Regions from separate parts of the Homo sapiens genome. Here region 1 is linked to region 2. Evidence: fine-mapped expression QTL. A gene starts in region 2. The other region holds a variant in brackets. All regions are shown on one strand. Distances are from middle to middle.

Region 1 (8,336 bases), 50 kb after region 2:
TGGCCCATGCATTTCTGGGAGGGTTGACAGGGCCCAGGTTGTGGAATACCTGTCTGTGAGCCCCATGTCCTGTCTTGTCCCAGCTGCCTGTAGTTTGACAGAGTATGCTAGAGGTCAGCCATTGCTAGGGAGGCTGCCACTAACCACACAGAGAGGAAGGAAAATTCTCAGCCACAGCACTTAGAGCTGAGCCTGACATGGTCCTCAGCAAGATGTTGCAAGTTCCTAATCTGAACACAGAGGCCAGGGAGTAAGCATCATCTGGAGCCCAGAGCTGACTGTCATTACCCACAAACATAAACACCCTGAGTCTGGCCTTCTCCCCACCCTGCCGAGGTTGTCAGAGCCTCAGCACTGGCTCTGCCCTGGGTGGCAGCCCCTGGGAAGCCCAGCTGCCACCTCTCTACAAATGGCCCTGTAGAAGCTGTGCTCAGTGATCCACTTCCTGGGGGGGGCTGGGCCCACCTTGTTGCCATTACACCCCATTACAAACTGATGCAACCAGCTTTCAACAGACACTGCCAAGGAAGATACACATTACAACAGCATGCTGCAATACCTCTGCCTGTGCAAGAGACTGACCCACATCCAAAAAATGGACATCTTCCCACCCCAGTGTCTCACTCCACTGAGCTGGAAGTGGCCTTTGTCAGGACCCTGTGAGGTCTTGAGTGGATCTGCTTTTCCCAAGATATTAAACCAGTGACTTTAAATCCTGGCTGCATATTACCATCATCTGGGATATTAAAAAATACTGATGCCTGGATCTTGCTCCCACCCAAAGAGTCTGACTGAATTGATGGGGTTTTCAAACATTTTTTAAGTGTTTGTTGAAGGATGACATACATGCAAAAAAAAAAAAAAAAGCACAAACCATAAGTGTAAAGCTCAGTGAATTTTCACAAAATGAATTTACCCCGAGTAACCAGCATCCAAATCATGAAACAGAACATCACCAGCAACCCCTGGTACCCCTTCCACTTACTACCTGGCTCCAAAGGCTAATGTCCATTCTGGCTTCTAATGGTGTACAGTCATTTCTCCTGTTTTCAAACTTTATATGATGTAAATGGAATCAGGCAGTATATATCCTCTTGTTGTGTTTGTGAGATGATTCATCCAAGTTGTTACTTAGAGCTGCAGTTTATTCACTCTTCTTGCTATAGAGTATTCCACTCTATGGATATTCCTCGATTTATCCATTCTACTGTGATGCATTTTTGGATATTCGAGTTGTTATTTATAATTCGGAACTATTCTGACTATTGCAATGACATGCTAGTGTGTATTTTTGGAGTACATGTATATCCATTGCTGGGGAAGCATGGGTATGAGTATGTTCAGCTTTAGTACCTTATGCCAAATAATGTTCCCAGGTGGCTGTACCCATTTACACTCCCTCCAGCAATGTATGAGAGTTCTGGTTGCTTCACATTTTTGCCAACCATAGATATTTTCTATCTTTTTCATGTTAGCCATTCTGGCAGGTATGTAGTGGTATCACAGTGTGGTTTGAATTTGCATTTCCCTGATGACTAATACAGCTGAGCAACCTTTCATATGTTTGTTAGCCATTTAGATCTTCTCTTTGCAAAGTGCCTGTTGGAATATTTGGACATGAGTATTTTTAAAAAGCTCCTTAGGTAACTCTACTGTGTAGCCAAGGTGGAAAACCACTGAACTAAAACCACAAATTAGTATCTGCGTCTCCCTTTCTTCATGATTTGCCTTTGAACTTAGAGCATTTTGGATCTGAGAGGACCTCGTGGAACTGGGAAAAGATTATATTCACTCCCTACTAAGATGAGCCTGTCAGGAAGAAGCAATTGGAGCTGGCAGTTAAGAATCTTTAGGAATGTGACCTCTACTTCAGAAGGGTCCAGGGAGGGCCTGTGGTGTCCACAGCTGCCACAGACATTTCCTAACCACAAAAATGGCCCCTTGGTGGTCTCCCCAGAGCTCCAGGCAGTCATGGGGAGGAAGCGGAGGGCCCCATGCCAGGTACTTCCCAGTTTCTAGGCCAACATGAATGGGACACAGCTCATATGGGGTTGTGGTTAGACTGGGGACAGTGGAGCATATGTTCTGGGGACCTGGGTGTGGCCAAGGGAGGCCTCCTGTCTGTGGCCTTTGTCCCAGATTGGAAATCAGCCAGTGGGGCTCTCCTACATGGGTCCAGGCCTGGCTAGCTCTTGAATTCTGTGCGTTTGCATGTGGGTCCTTATGCATGCGTCCTAGAGCAGGGTCCCAGGGGGCCACTCCCCCCCCCGACCCCTTACTCCTCTAAGCTGGGAAACACGTGGCATGAGAGAACACACTGTGGCTTCTAATGACATCGTGTCTTGATTGCATCCCCATTGCATCATCTGGGCTCATCTCATCCCCACCTCTGGACTGTAACATCATCCCAGGGACTGCCGGACACTCATCTGTGCTCCCCCACAGAGAGTATAATGCCATTTGGTAATTCAGTACAGCCTCTTCCAACTTGAGAAAGAAGATGCATTTCCTTCCCTCAGTCTTGAGCTGTGCAGGTGTCACGCTGAGCTGCCCTGTGTGGGCTCCATGTTGGCACACATCGGTTGCAAGGGGCTCTGTGTAGTGAGTCTGGAGTTGGACCACTGGCCAGGCGCTGGGATGCTAGTGCCTGGACTGAGTGTGCACAGAGGCCCCTCAGGCAGAGCCACAGTGGGCGCTGAACCTCCTGGTGAAGTTCACCGCAGTAACTAGAGCTCAGTGGGAGGGGCTGGCCTATCAGCACCTGTCCTGTGTGCTTTTTGAAAAGAGCAGGGTCTACCTTCTGTCAACTGAAGTCCTGCCAGCTGCATGGCATGAGATGAGGGACAAAGTGGCACGTGAACAAAGTTGACATTTTGGAGGCTGTTAGGCTCAGAGCCAACCCTGGGCTCCATGTAGTGCCATGACTCATGGATTCAGGCCCATCTTGGAAATTGCTCTGGGCGTAGAGCTCTCATTTCTGATAGTCCAAGTGCAGATATTGGGGTTCCTCTAATTGGCCCAAATGGTGGCCTGCACCAACCAGCGACCAGAGTGCTGTCTGAATCTAGAATAACAGGAAGAACACGCCTCCAGCAGTGTAGGAGAGTTCCCCATGCAGTGTGCTTCCCATTCTTACCAGCAGTTGGTATCTTCTGTCTTTTTCACACTGGCCATCTGAGTCTCATAAGGAGACTCCTCTCCTTCCACTGAGCCTGCATCCCAGCCTCTCCCCTTTCTTCAGGGACCTCTCCCCAGCAATTACGCCCTTCCATTCTCTCAACCAGGGAATCTTCAAACTCTTCTTCTCCACTGGCTCCTGCTGTGCTCCTGTCTCCATCACCTGTATAATGCTTCCTGCCATCCTGCCTTCCCCGTGGAGTACAGCCATGCTGTCTGCTGCTTACAGCCAAGATTCTGGAAAGAAATGTCTCCTTTTTCCTCGTCATCAACCACTCATTTATTCAGCAAGTGTTTCTTTTACACTTGCCTGTGCTGGGCATGGCAGCAATGCAGCAGTGAACAAAACCATCAGCCCTGCTCTCATGCAGCTTATAATCAAGTAGAGAGACAGACATAAATGATTAATAGATGCTCCTGTAATGGTGGTTGTGAGGTGTGCTGCCACAGCCCAGCCACACACGCCAGTTCCCTTCTCTGCACATGTACATGTCTGCTCATCCTTCCCACCTGAACTCATGTGCCACCTCACTTATGCCCCTTCCCAATGCCGCACCCACACAACAGGGTGTCCCTCTGTGCCCACAGCAGCCCTTGGGTATAACTGTTCCCCACAGAGGCTGAACCCCAAGGGCAGAGTCCAGGCCACACTCACCACGGAGACCCCTGCCTGGCACAGAGCCCAGCCCAGCAGAGATGCTCAGAAGATGAATGAAAGTCCCTGCTGAGATTGATCCAATCTGTTTGTGAACATCTCTGGGGTCCAAGAATTCACGGCTTTCTTTTTCTTTAGAGAGCCTTTTGTTTCTTTTTGCCATTATATACTATATTTGGGTTAGGGCACAACAATGTGAATATACTTAATACTGAACTCTACACTTGAAAATGGTTAAGATGGTAAAGTTTTAAGTTATATGTATTTTGCCACAATTTTTTAAAATGCAGAGCATAGGTACAAAGAAGGAAAAAAAGGGGGCAAGGTCCATTTTATTGAGAAATAAAGAACAAAGGGTTCAATTCAGAGAGGATTGGATTTTAAAACGTAATTTAGATTAGGGAAATGCAAATGAAAACCATAATAAGTAAGATACCACTTCACATCTGTTAGGATGGCTATTTTAAAACAACAAAAACAACCTGAAAATAAGTGTTGGCAAGGATGTGAAGAAATAGATACCCTTGTGCATTGCTATTGGGAACGTAAAATCATGCAGCCTTTGTTGAAAACAATGTGGTGGTTCCTCAAAAACTTAGTTATCATATGATCCCGCAGTTCCACTTCTAGGAATATACCCAAAAGAATTGAAAGCAGGGACTCAAAGTGATATTTGTACACCAGTGTTTGTAGCAGTATTATTCACAATAGCCAAAAGGTGGAAACAACCCAGATGTCCATGACAAGAGGAGTGGATAAACAAAATATGGTGAATA[T/C]GTACAATGGAACATAATTCAGCTTTAAAAAGGAATGAAATTCTGGTACATGTTATAACATAGATGAACCTTAAAAACATTATGCTAAGTGAAATAAGCCAGACACAGAAGGAAAAATACCAGATGATCCCACTTATATGAGGTACCTAGAATAGTGAAATTCATAGAGACAGAAAGTAGAAGGATGGTTGCCAGGGGCTGGAAGGAGGAAGAACAGGGAGATACTGCTTAGTGGATGCAGAGTTTATGTTGAGGGTGATGAAAAAGTTCTGGAGATGGATGGTGGTGATGGCTGCACAACAGTGAGAATGTACTTCATACTATGGAACTCTGCACTTAAAAATGGTTAAAATGGATGTAGACATTTTATGTCTATTTTGCCATAACAAGAAAGTAATTTGGGTGTATTTTAGAGATTTTAGAAAATACTGTAAGCACAAGAGGAAAAAAATTAAAATCATTCGCAATCACCAGGTAGAGACAACGACTGTTGAAAGATCAGTGTGTATCTTTTCATTCTCGTTCTCTCTCTCAAAAAAGTGTGTGTGTGTGTGTGTGTGTGTCTTCAGATGTCACACTGGACTTTCAGGAAAGGTTCCCCTCTCTGCTGCTTCCCTGCTGGAGCCATGGAGAGCAAGTCTATCCCTGTTCCATAGGTCAATCCTTTGAATGATTTCTCATGGCTGAGTTCACTCCCCTGCACCTCCAGGGTTGCACTTCTCTGAAAATACTCATTTATTTTATGTGTCTACTAAAAACATGGCACCCACGACCCAATAATATGTTGGAAGGGGTTGGAGAGAGAAACGCGAGTACCTCTCACACCTTCTCACACACTACACATCTTAGCGATGGCCGAGTGAGCATGTTGGCTCTCTGGACTCCTCAGTCTGTTGGTCTGGGCTGCGCCAGGCTCAGGCTCCCTGCCTCCCCCCCAACCTTGATCCCCTTGCTTCTTGAACCTGATGCTGGGCCTCACATTCTCCGTTGATTCTAGCTCTTAAATCCTGCTTCTCCAGCTTGTCAGGAGGCTGTGCCCTCACACCCCAAAGAGCAGATCTGCCCTCTCCACTGAGAGGGAAGGAGTGAAGGTCCCACAGCCTCTGACCCCTGCTGGGCCCAAGAGAGGAACAGCTGCTTGCTTTATTTCTCGTGGGAGAAGTGTGTCTCCTCTTTGTCTCAGGCACCCCTCTGCCCTGTACAGCAGCAAGTCAGCAGGAATGAGCTGAGCCGCCCAAGTAGTGGCTCCCTCCACTATGGGGGCTCTGTGGTCCTGGGGGCTGTCCTGCCTCCACTGCCATAGGCCTGGCCCCAGAGCATGCTGCAGTGGTCACAACCTGTGGAGGTGCCCCCAGACCCCCATATTTGGGCCCAACTACAGCCTCCTTCCCCAGCTTTGCCACCTGGCTTGGGAGCCAGGGCACCACCAGCTTCACTGGCAGGGAGAGATGAAGAAAGAGGCCATAGCCACGCAAGTGACTGAAGTTCATGTTCGTGCACACCAATTAGAGAGGGACAGCACGTTCATTTACCTCCAAATCCAGCCACAGACACATCGCCCTTTTCTCTTGGCTCTGAGGCCTCCACAGAAGGGTTTTTTAAGGTTGCAGCCAGGACCTTTATAGCCTAGTCCTGAGAAGATTATCTTTTTATTGCAACTTTGATTAATGATTGATCAAAAACTGATACTAGAAACACTGAAGAACAAATTTGCTGTAGACATTAGGAAAGGTCTACATCTGGCAGGCCTGGAGACCTGCCCACCCTCTCCCCCCACGGTCAAACCAGGGCAAAGGTACATTGGAAGACCCAACCCCTACACACTCTTACACGTGCACTCGCACACACACACTGAGGGGAAAGAAATATTTAATTGTCCTTAAATCCTCTTGGATTAGGCTATAAATTGCAAATAAATGGAGCAACAGACAGAGCAAAAGCACATAAGGTCCTTTAATAGAATTTCTCTATCTTATTCTGTTTCTATGAATGCCTGTTACAAATTAGCAGCTTAAAGGGAAACCTGGAGTGTGGGAAAGAGCGACCCTTGTGTGAAGTCCACAGCCGGGGTTTCCTACAGACCTCAGGTCCCAGAGAACATCTAAGATGCCTCCAACACCAGATGGAGGAGGGCAGGAGATGCTGCACAGAGAAGCAGCACTTCCCGAGCATCTGTGGCAGGAAGTGACTTGGAGAGGATGAGGCCGTGCCTCAGGTGTGCTCTAGCTGTTCTGATGGTCTCTGAGGCCACGACTGCCATGGTGAGGTCCACAGCCTGCATCAGAATCACCAAAGGGCCCAAACGTACGGCCTCAGAGCCTGGAGAGCCAGGAATCGGCATTGCAACAACTCCCTGCTCAGTGGGTTCTACCAGTCCAGTACCTGCCCTCTGAGGGTGCCCAGGGAGCAGGGTGCTTGCTGGCTGGAACACTTTTTCCTGCCCCTCAGCTCCTCTGTGATGCCCTGAGGCACGGGCACTGGAAAGCTGGCAGAGCTGCTTCTAAATTGAAACTGGAAAATGAAACTGGAAATCACAGTTTCATTTTCCAGTTTCACTCGCTCCCCCTACTGTTGGGGTTTCTTTTCCACAAGGAGAGTCCCCCAGGGAGAAAGAAGCAGGAGTGGGAGTGGGGGAGCATGTTGGGGGAAGGCAGTGAGGGTGTCCTGTCTGCAGCAGGGCATGGAGGGGCCCCAGCGCTGCACTTGCTTCCTTTAAGCCTGGCCTGCTTGCTGTCAGCCCCGGGGGTGGTTTCCTCTCTAGGAAAAGCTAATGTCATGCTTATGCTGAAAAACTCTTTTCAGAGGTACTTTAGGAGGGGCCTGGCTCTCGATTAATCTGGGCCATTTCATACCGGCTGTGCTCACCCAGGCACAAACACTGAAAGCAACAGCTGGCAAAGCCATCGCTTGGTAGCAGCTTGGAAGACACCACCAAAGAAGCTCTCATGGAAGCGGCAGATTTCCTGAAGCGACTGGAATGCGGGGAAGGAGGGCAGTCGGGGAGAGCCGAGAACCAGCCCCCCTGCCAACTCCACCCCATTCCTCTCCTCACCTGAAATGTCTCATCCTTAGAACAGCTGCCCTAACCCCCTAATCCCACACACTCCTTTGTAGGTTAAGACCCCTGAAGTTGCACCCTCTCGTAGGAGCTATGTTTTTCAGAGATCCATGTGATTATTTGCCTAATGTCTGCCTCCCTCAGGGAAGTAAAGTCTGTGACGCGTGGACCTGGTCTGTGTTGTTCACTGTGCATCCACAGTGCCTGGGTAGTGCCTGGCATGCAGGAAGTACACACAAAAAATATGTGTTCATGAGTGAGGGCAGGCTTGAAGAGCCCAAGAGAAGGACAGTGCTCCAGGGAGGCGTCTGCATCAGGCTCCCCAGTGTCTGGACTGCATCCCAGCCCCTCCGAGCAACTTCAGGGGAGGATTCTGTGAACAGATGCCCCAGCTCTTCCGCCCACAGCTCCTACCCCCAGCCTGAGGAATGCTTTGACTGTCCCCAGTGTGTGCAGGCAGTGGGGAGGTGATAGGGGGAGGTGTCCCACATGGCACACTCTCCCTAGCCCTTGCTTTGCCTCCGTTACCTACATAGATGGGCTTCACAGCCTCTTCCAGATAGGCAGGGCACTGAGCTCTGTGGGCCACACCTAAAAAGAAAGGGAGACAAGCTGGCGGTGGGGGCATGACAGTGTTTTTGTTTGTTTGTTTGTTTTTTGAGATGGAGTT
Region 2 (8,336 bases):
CCCCACACCGTAATGCAGGTCTGACCCCTGTGAAAGAGAAGAGGGAAGGATGGAGGAGTAGATAGGAAGAGCCTCAGACTGCAGAGCCATTCTGAGAAAGTGCTGGCCAGACTGACAGGAAGCCCCAGAGTACAGGTGGCCCATTAGAGGAGTTTTGCCTCTGGCATTCCCTCTTATAGCGTCAAATGCATCTTGTAGTATTTAGGATGGCATTCTATATTTGACCAATTATTTGATTGCTTTATTACCTCACTCAAGTGTGTTTCCCGAGGGCAGAGACCACATTTATTTTTGCTCATCACTGAATCCCCAGCATTAGCAGGGTGGCTGCATTTTGTAGTTGCCACAGAATATTTGTTGAATGAAATATCTAAAAGGGTTATTTTTTTCATTTTTATCTGAATCACACATCAGGTATTTTTTTTTCCTAACCAGTGACTCCTAAGTTAGATGCTGCTTGCACCATGCTTTCATTCCATTTATATCATTCTTCAGCTGGGTTGCGTGATCATCAGCTGTGCCCCGCCCCCCAACCCTCCATTGCCCGATTCTGTAGTAAAGTCTTTTGGGACTGGCCTTGGACTTGGACTTTTGCTTCTTTTGTGTCTTTACTGACTATCAGTGCAGGCCTGGATAAAGTTCTTGTTGCAGAACTTGCTACTGCACAAACTTTTGTTCCAGGGTTAGATCAGGAAGGATAGTAAGGAAAACAGAGCTGTCTCCAAAAGGTGGGATAGAAAGCTGTCCTTTAGAAGTTAAATTATAAATCAAGCCAATCAGAGCAAAGATACAAAATGTCTCCATAAAGAAAAATAAGGGCTGAGAGACCTTACTGAGTAATGTTACTCAGTAACGCCTTGCTCTATCTAAAAATGTCCATCTGAGGAGAGGCGGCCTGGGTACCATAATACAGAGAGCCTCATCGACACAAACAGATGGTGTCCACCAGGCCCCATCTAGGGAGAAGGGCTGGCCAGGCCAGCAGGGATGAGTGAACAGTACTTCCTATAGGTTTTGACCTGTGTTGTGGAAAGAGACATCCCACATTGCCCGAGCCTGATATCATCAAACATTTAAGTCAGACAATTCACTCTTCCGATTCTGATTTTAGGCTCACTAAGCCACCTTCTGACTATGGGGCTCCAAACTGCATGGCTACAAGAAGAGAATGTGTTCATCAGGTGGCCTCGAGTCCAGTGTTCCCGACAGTCTTGCTTCTAACAGGAATGGATAAGCTTCAGGTTTTGGGGTCAGATGGCCTTGATTCAAACCCTGCCACTAACATACATAGTAACTATGTGACCTTGGGATTTCCTTCATCTTTTTTTCTCCCAAATGAAAAATAAATAGATTATAATATACCACATGATAGTAGGGAGAAATAATGAGGTAATAATGCATGTAATGCATTTAGCATAGCACTTCTCTAGCAAATAGTGAATGAAATCAGTCAGTTGTCATTCTGACTTTATGCAACAGTGCTAATCGACTCTGGTACACTGGAAGTCAGATGAGATTTTTGGCCCCACAAAGTCAAGGACCAAACCTGGACCTTGGGAAGTTGCCAAGATGAAAAACATCAGGCCGGCCTTGACCTCCTGATGCTCTCTGTTCACATGTGTGATGTCTATAAAAGGTAACCAGGATTTGGCTTATCTGCTTACATCTCTTCCTGTCTTTTCCTGATCTTCATCTTCCCAAACATAGTTTTTATGCAGAAGCAGATTTAACTCTACTTTGCTATCTTGGAGTCAAGAATTGTCCTATAAGGAGGAAGAGGCTCCAAGGCTTGCCTTTTTTGTTTTTTCTTTTTCCTTCATACTACAGACTAAAAGTAGCATCTTCTGGACAGAGAAACAGGCTGTTGTTTTTCTAAGGTCATCATTTGGCCTGCCCCACTTTCCCACCTGCTCTTGAGGGAACTATTGCAAGGACACATACAAGCCCCTACATCAGTCACAGACCAGGGCCTCCATCTTGCAGGGAATGTGCCCAAATTACAAACAGGTAAACCAAAGTGACTCTGGGCAGATTTAATAGCTCATTTTGGTTTCTTGTTCCAGTTATAACAGACTGCTCTGTGTTTGCTCTATGGCAAAAACTTTTATGTTTGCTTTGCAACAAACGTACAGACAGGGCAAACTGTGTTTGGAGTATGGTGTCTTACCAATGTTTTCTAAAAGCAAGTGAATAGAAATGCTTGCAAAAGTATTTTCAGACCTCAGTGGCCAGCGCTGAACACCGCTGTAGGAATGTCCATCAAACGTTGTGGCCATGCTCCACTCTAACAAAAACCTGGTTCCGTGGCATAATTGTGGGGGCTAATTGTCAGGCTAAGTTTCAGACACCTTCCAAAAAAAATTGCAGGGCTTCCTCAGTCTTTAAACTCCAGATAATATTGTCCAAACTTTGACAACTAACCTGTTATCATGGAGATAGCTCCAAGTTGATGGACTGGCCATTAGAGAATGTCTATCAAGCATCCAGGTAAATGACTTGGTTGCTGCCCTCAAGGAACCCACTTAGAGGCTGTCAGAAAATTTTAAGTATTTTCTTCCTTCTATTGTTCATTCCTAAAATTCTGGCAGTAGGTATGATTATTATTATTCCCATCCCACAGGGGAAGTAATTAAGTCTAACTACTTGAATATTTTGCCCCAAATCACTGACAGTAAGAGACGGCCAGACACTGAAACCTGGAATCTCTAAATGTTTAGATATTGATGGGCACCGCTTAGACCAGGGAGTCCAAACCATAGGCTTGCTGTTCCAGTTTCTCTTATCGGATGAAGGGACCCCCATTTCACCGACGTCATTGACTTTTGGGTTCTCCGCTGACCCCAGATGAGATGCCTGGTACCTCATGGTCAAGTCCCCTCCAACGGGGACTCCTCAGAGGCTTGGTCCCAGTTGCTCAGGCTGCCATCTGCCTCCTCAGGCCAGAGCCCGAGGCGCCGCCAGCGGTCAGGTCCCGGGCCGGCTGCCAGCCACAGGCCCAAGTAAACGCTGAATGAAGGGCAGATGGAGGAACCTGTCCCGGTCGGCCGAAGCGCCGCGGGCGCCTTTCCACTTACGGCGGGCCTGCCCAGCCTCCCGCCCAGCCCGGGCCCGGGTCCCGCCGAGGCAGGTGTGCGTGGCGGACTAGCTCTCGGGCACTCGGCTGGCCCAGCTCCACCCCGAACGCCACCGGGCCAGGCCACGCGCAGACCCGAGCCCGGGGCCCCCGCCTCTGGCTGCCGGCCCGCGCCCGCCGCGCGCCCCGCGTTCACTGCGCGCTCGGCCCCGGTCCCGCCTCCCGGAGGGTTTCGCTTTCGCTTTCCTGCCGATGTCGTTGAGGAAAATGAAAGCGGTCGTGGCCAGGACTGGCGCAGCTGCCGTTTCAGGCGAGGGGCGCAGAATGCAGCGGCCGCCAGCCTGGAGCGCGGGCCCTGGGGCCGCAACCCGCGCCGGGCGAGGTAAGCACAGCCCCTTCGCGGCCGCCTCGCGGGCTCCTCCTTGCGGACCCGGCGGGCCCGACGCCAGGCGTTTGACCCGGGCAGGGTCAGGGGTTCTGCCGTGGGGGCGGGGAGGGCCTGAGAAGCGGCACCCTTGGGTTTCGTGGCTTTGAGCCTCCAGGCCAGGCTGGAAGACCTGGGAGGCCTCAGACAAGCGTGCCAAGGGGCTAGCAGCCCGGGGTCGAGCTGGAACCGTGGCAAGTCGGGCCACCTGAGCACGCCTTTCCCTTTTGTAGAGCACCGACCTCCCTGGGTGTTGGTAAAAATCAAAAGTGGGAGGGTGTACGTAAAATGCTGAACAGAATGCCTAACCTGAGCTCATAATCTACTCCCTCTGACCTGTCAGACTCATTTTTCCCACTGGGCCCCACCCCATACCTCATGTAGTTTGCTTAAGTTTCCTAGATCTGGTGCACCTGGGGGCACTTGGAGTGCCTTCCAAGTGTTCCTTGACCGAGCAAGCTGGCAGCTCATCTCCCTTGATCACGGGCATGGAGAGCAACTAGGCCAGGATGTGGCCCCCTTGCCCTGGCCCTGTCCATGTGAAGTCAGGGCCTTACTCTGCTGGGGCCCCCATCCCGGGGCTAGCATAGATGTCAGGGATAGGTGCACTCACAGACCGAGTCCTTCCCAGACCAGGAAATTTCCAGTCCACTGCATCTGCCAGCAGAAGCATGAAAGATGCGTGCCACCTTGTCTTTGCCCTTCGTCAAGTATAGCCAACTCATTCTTGGTATGCAGGAAGGGGGTTCCACCCCAGGGCTGTGGAAACAGCCCCTGCCCTTAGGGCGTTCCCATCCCCTGAAGAGAGAAAATATGTATTCAAGTTACCCATCAGGCAGGTTGTGTAGAACAAGGACAGGTGAGTGAAAGAGCTAAGAGCTGAGAGTAAAGTGACTAAATCATCAGAAACTTTACATTTAAGTTATGACAGGTTTTGCAGGCCAATACCAAGAATCCCCTTTAACTCAATTTTTGTCTCAATAATAATGAATTCAGCCTAATCACACAGATCTGATCATACGGCCCATTACTGAAACAAAACTTGAATGATCTTTACTTTGAGAAAACCATCTGAATTTGACAAAAGATGGTCTAAGTTCCTAAGTTTCAAAACATGGAGTCCGCCGCTGCCCTACCTCAGCAGGATGGTGTTGAGTACTGATTGCTTTTAGAAAATGCTGCTCTTGCCGGGCACGGTGGCTCACGCCTGTAATCCCAGCACTTCAGGAGGCCGAGGCGGGCTGATTACCTGAGGTCGGGAGTTTGAGACCAGCCTGACAAACATGGAGAAACCCCGTCTCTACTAAAAATACAAAATTAGCCAGGCATTGTGGCACATGCCTGTAATCCCAGCTACTTGGGAGGCTGAGGTAGGAGAATTGCTTGAACCCGGGAGGCGGAGGTTGCAGTGAGCCAAGATCGCGCCACTGCACTCCAGCCTCGGCAACAAGAGCTAAACTCCGTCTAAAAAAAACAAAGAAAGAAAAAAAGAAAATAGAGAAAATGCTGCTGTTTTCATGAGCCAGAAAATTAGATGCACTTCCATTCACATTCCATTGGCATGGACTAGTCTCATGGGTCTCACCTAATTGTAAGGTGGCTGGGAAATGTAGCCTGGTGGTGTTCCCAGGAGGAAAAGAACGAGAGACTGGTGAGCACTAGTAACCTCTTCCACAATCGACTAATGTGGTGAATTACTTTATCATGATGTATTTGTAATACACTTTCGTATTTGATTAGATAATATTTTATTTAGGAGTTTAACATCTATGTTTATAAGTGAAACTATCCTGTATTTTTCTTTATTTGTACAGTCCATATTTAACATTTCAAAATCAAGTAACAAATTGGGCAATGTTTTCTCTTTTTTTCTATTTTCTAAAGCAACTCCATTAAGATAGAGATTTTCTGCTCCTTGGAAGTTAGTAGGAGGCACTTGTAAAATCTTCTGGGTCTGAAACTCTATGGGGAAGAGGTTTCAAAATTATTTGAGTCTCTTAAGTGGTTATTCACATTTTTGTGCCAAATTTGGCAATTTTTATTGTCTAGAAATTATTCATTTCATCTGTATTTTCAAATGTATTATCATGTGTTTATATTATTCCTTTATAAGTTTTAAAATGTCTGTTTTATTTGTCATTTCTTCCTTTTTCTGTAATCTCATTTTTAAAAAATCTTCTGTCAGTTATTCTTGATCAGTCTCACTAGAGGTTTGTCTACTTTCAAATAAATACTTCAAGTTTTGTTAACCACCTTTTTTTTGGTCCTCTATGTCCTCTATTTTGCTGATTCTGCCCTTATGTTTATTATTCCATTTTTTCATGTTTCTTTAGTCATATGCTTTTGTAATAAATTCAAACAGTATAGACATTTGTAAAGTGAGACAGGAAAGTCCACTTCAGCCTCCATAGGCAACCACAGATATCATATTGGTGTGTTTTTCTGGACCCTTTCCTATGCTTATACAAATATTTTTCTACAACTTTCTAAACTGAAACTCATAGGTAAACTGCTCTTTATAGGCAACCACAGATATCATATTGGTGTGTTTTTCTGGACCCTTTCCTATGCTTATACAAATATATTTCTACATCTTTCTAAACTGAAACTCATGGGCCTCTTTCTGTGGTGTATACACACACATACACATACATACACACACATACACATCCATTAAAATGGAATACATACCATAATTTATCCATTTTCCATTTATGGGCATTTAGGGTGAAAGTCTTGGTCTTTTAACAATGGAATTTAATTCATTCATATTTATTTTGATCACTGATAAATGTGGTCTTATTTTTGCCATCTTGTTTTGCCATGTATTTATCATGTGTGTTTTTTTTTTCCTTGTGACTCTATGGATTCATCAAAGTGTATTTGTCCCCTGTTTCTTCTTTCCTTCTTTTTATTCAGTGAGTTGGAAGTTCTATATCTTACAATAGGCCATCATTTAGTTCTTAAGCTTAGATAAACTTGTATTTTTGTCTCTGGCAAAAATTAATCAGAACCTATAACCTCCTTCCAAACATAATAAATCTTTTTTTTTATTTTTTGTTTTTGTTTTTGTTTTTGAGATGGAGTCTCGCTCTGTCACCCAGGCTGGAGTGCAGTGGTACAATCTCAGCTCTCTGCAACCTCCACCTCCCGGGCTCAAGCACTTCACCTGTCTCAGCCTCCCGAGTAGCTGGGACTACAGGTCCCACCATGCCCAGCTAATTTTTGTATTTTTAGCAGAGACGGGGTTTCACCATGTTGGCCAGGATGGTCTCAATCTCTTGACCTAGTGATCCACCCGCCTCAGCCTCCCAAAGTGCTGGAATTACATAAGTATGTTTTCTCACGTCTCTTTTTCCTTACCTTTTCCCCACAGGCACATATACACATAGGTATCTGCCTGGGAATTATTAAAATAACCTGAACAATTCCAATTGTTATTAATTCTTCTTGCTTCAAAATACAATTTCCTTTTTCTATGTTAGAAATATTAACAATTGCATTAATCTACAATCTAACCTATTTGTGCAATTGCATATTATACCAGGATAGGAAAGTTTAAACATGTATTTCTTTTAGACTTTTCATTGAATTGCTGAAAATTCATAGTGAATTGTATCTTGAGTAATGCTTCTCTGAGTCTCTTATTTCCCAAAAGTATACTTTGGAATCCATGCAATTCTGATCGTTGTTTGACCTTTGCTGGCACAAAGGCATTCTGAAATATTTGCAAATGCTAAAGTCACTTCCTCATCTTTTACAGAGTTTACTTCAGCTTGGTGAAACCAAGTGCAGTATCAGTTTGTTGTAAGCTTACCACTAATTAAAGGTTCATAAAATAGCCCTGCCCTAGGGTCAGGGACTAGCTAGAAGAGCATGAAAATAGCCTTTGAAGATTCAGCTGCTGGATATTTTACATCAAAAAGCTGAAACGTTTTAACTATTTTAATATTTTGTTTATAGTACTTAATATTTGTGAACGTGAAGTAAAATGGACACAGTCATAGTAAAACTGTGGTAAAACTAACTTGGATGGTGTTTGGGCTGTGGTTATCAGAAGCTGCTTAAAGTGTCCATGCCTTTTATCCCAGTTCTACTTCCAGGAATATGTCCTAAGGCATGTTTTCATATGAGGTTATTTCAGGTGGCGCAGGGTAATTCTAGTTGGGACACATTTGCCACATTGTCTAACACTGACTCACAGTGAGAAAGTTATTCCCATGCTCAATTCCTTTTCAGTCTTCTGATCAACGGAAGGTGAAAAACTTTAGCTTGGTGCTAGCATACCTTTAACACCTCTCTAAGCCTCTCTAATCTCCCATTTTATATAAAAGAATGGGCAAAGGGGTAGCAGTATTTTGACTATATTTTAACCACAGTGTTTTTTTATTCCAATAAAACCTATTATGATTGCCTTCATTTATGGCATATGATGTTGGTTTTCCACTTAAATAAGGTTTGTTTGTTTGTTTGTTTGTTTTTTGAGACAGAGTCTTGTCCTGTTGTCCAGGCTAGAGTGCAGTGGCATGATCTTGGCTCACTGCAACTTCTGCTTCATAGGTTCAAGCGATTCTTGTGCCTCAGCCTCTTGAGTAGCTGGGACTACAGGCACGCACCACCACACCCGGCTGATTTTTTGTATTTTTAGTACAGACGGGGTTTCGCCATGTTGCCCAGGCTGGTCTTGAACTCTTGAGCTCAGGCAATCCGCCTGCCTTGTTTTCCCAAAGTGCTAGGATTACAGGTGTGAGCCACTACACCGAGTCAGGTTTGCTTTTAAAATACATTTGTTTAAGGACAGAAATGAGTTGATGTAAAGAGAAATGTTAAGTACATTAC

The links.
Region 1: its variant is fine-mapped to the expression of CARINH in blood mononuclear cells (TOPMed, PIP above 0.99).

The regions. Positions count from the first base shown.
Region 1 is chr5:132,457,278-132,465,613 of GRCh38, forward strand. The region is part of intron 3 of CARINH (colitis associated IRF1 antisense regulator of intestinal homeostasis); the gene reads left to right. Among named protein-coding and RNA genes, the nearest start is that of IRF1, 29 kb to the right of the region's middle. RefSeq lists enhancers at 1-476, 404-633, 6,699-7,663, 7,553-7,622, 7,664-8,336. The variant T/C (reference allele first, on the strand shown) is at 4,609.
Region 2 is chr5:132,407,587-132,415,922 of GRCh38, forward strand. It overlaps CARINH (colitis associated IRF1 antisense regulator of intestinal homeostasis), which reads left to right and starts at 3,343. Exons shown (of 4, transcript NR_161242.1): 1 at 3,343-3,455. RefSeq lists an enhancer at 2,692-2,741 and silencers at 2,982-3,281, 3,352-3,641, 8,044-8,232.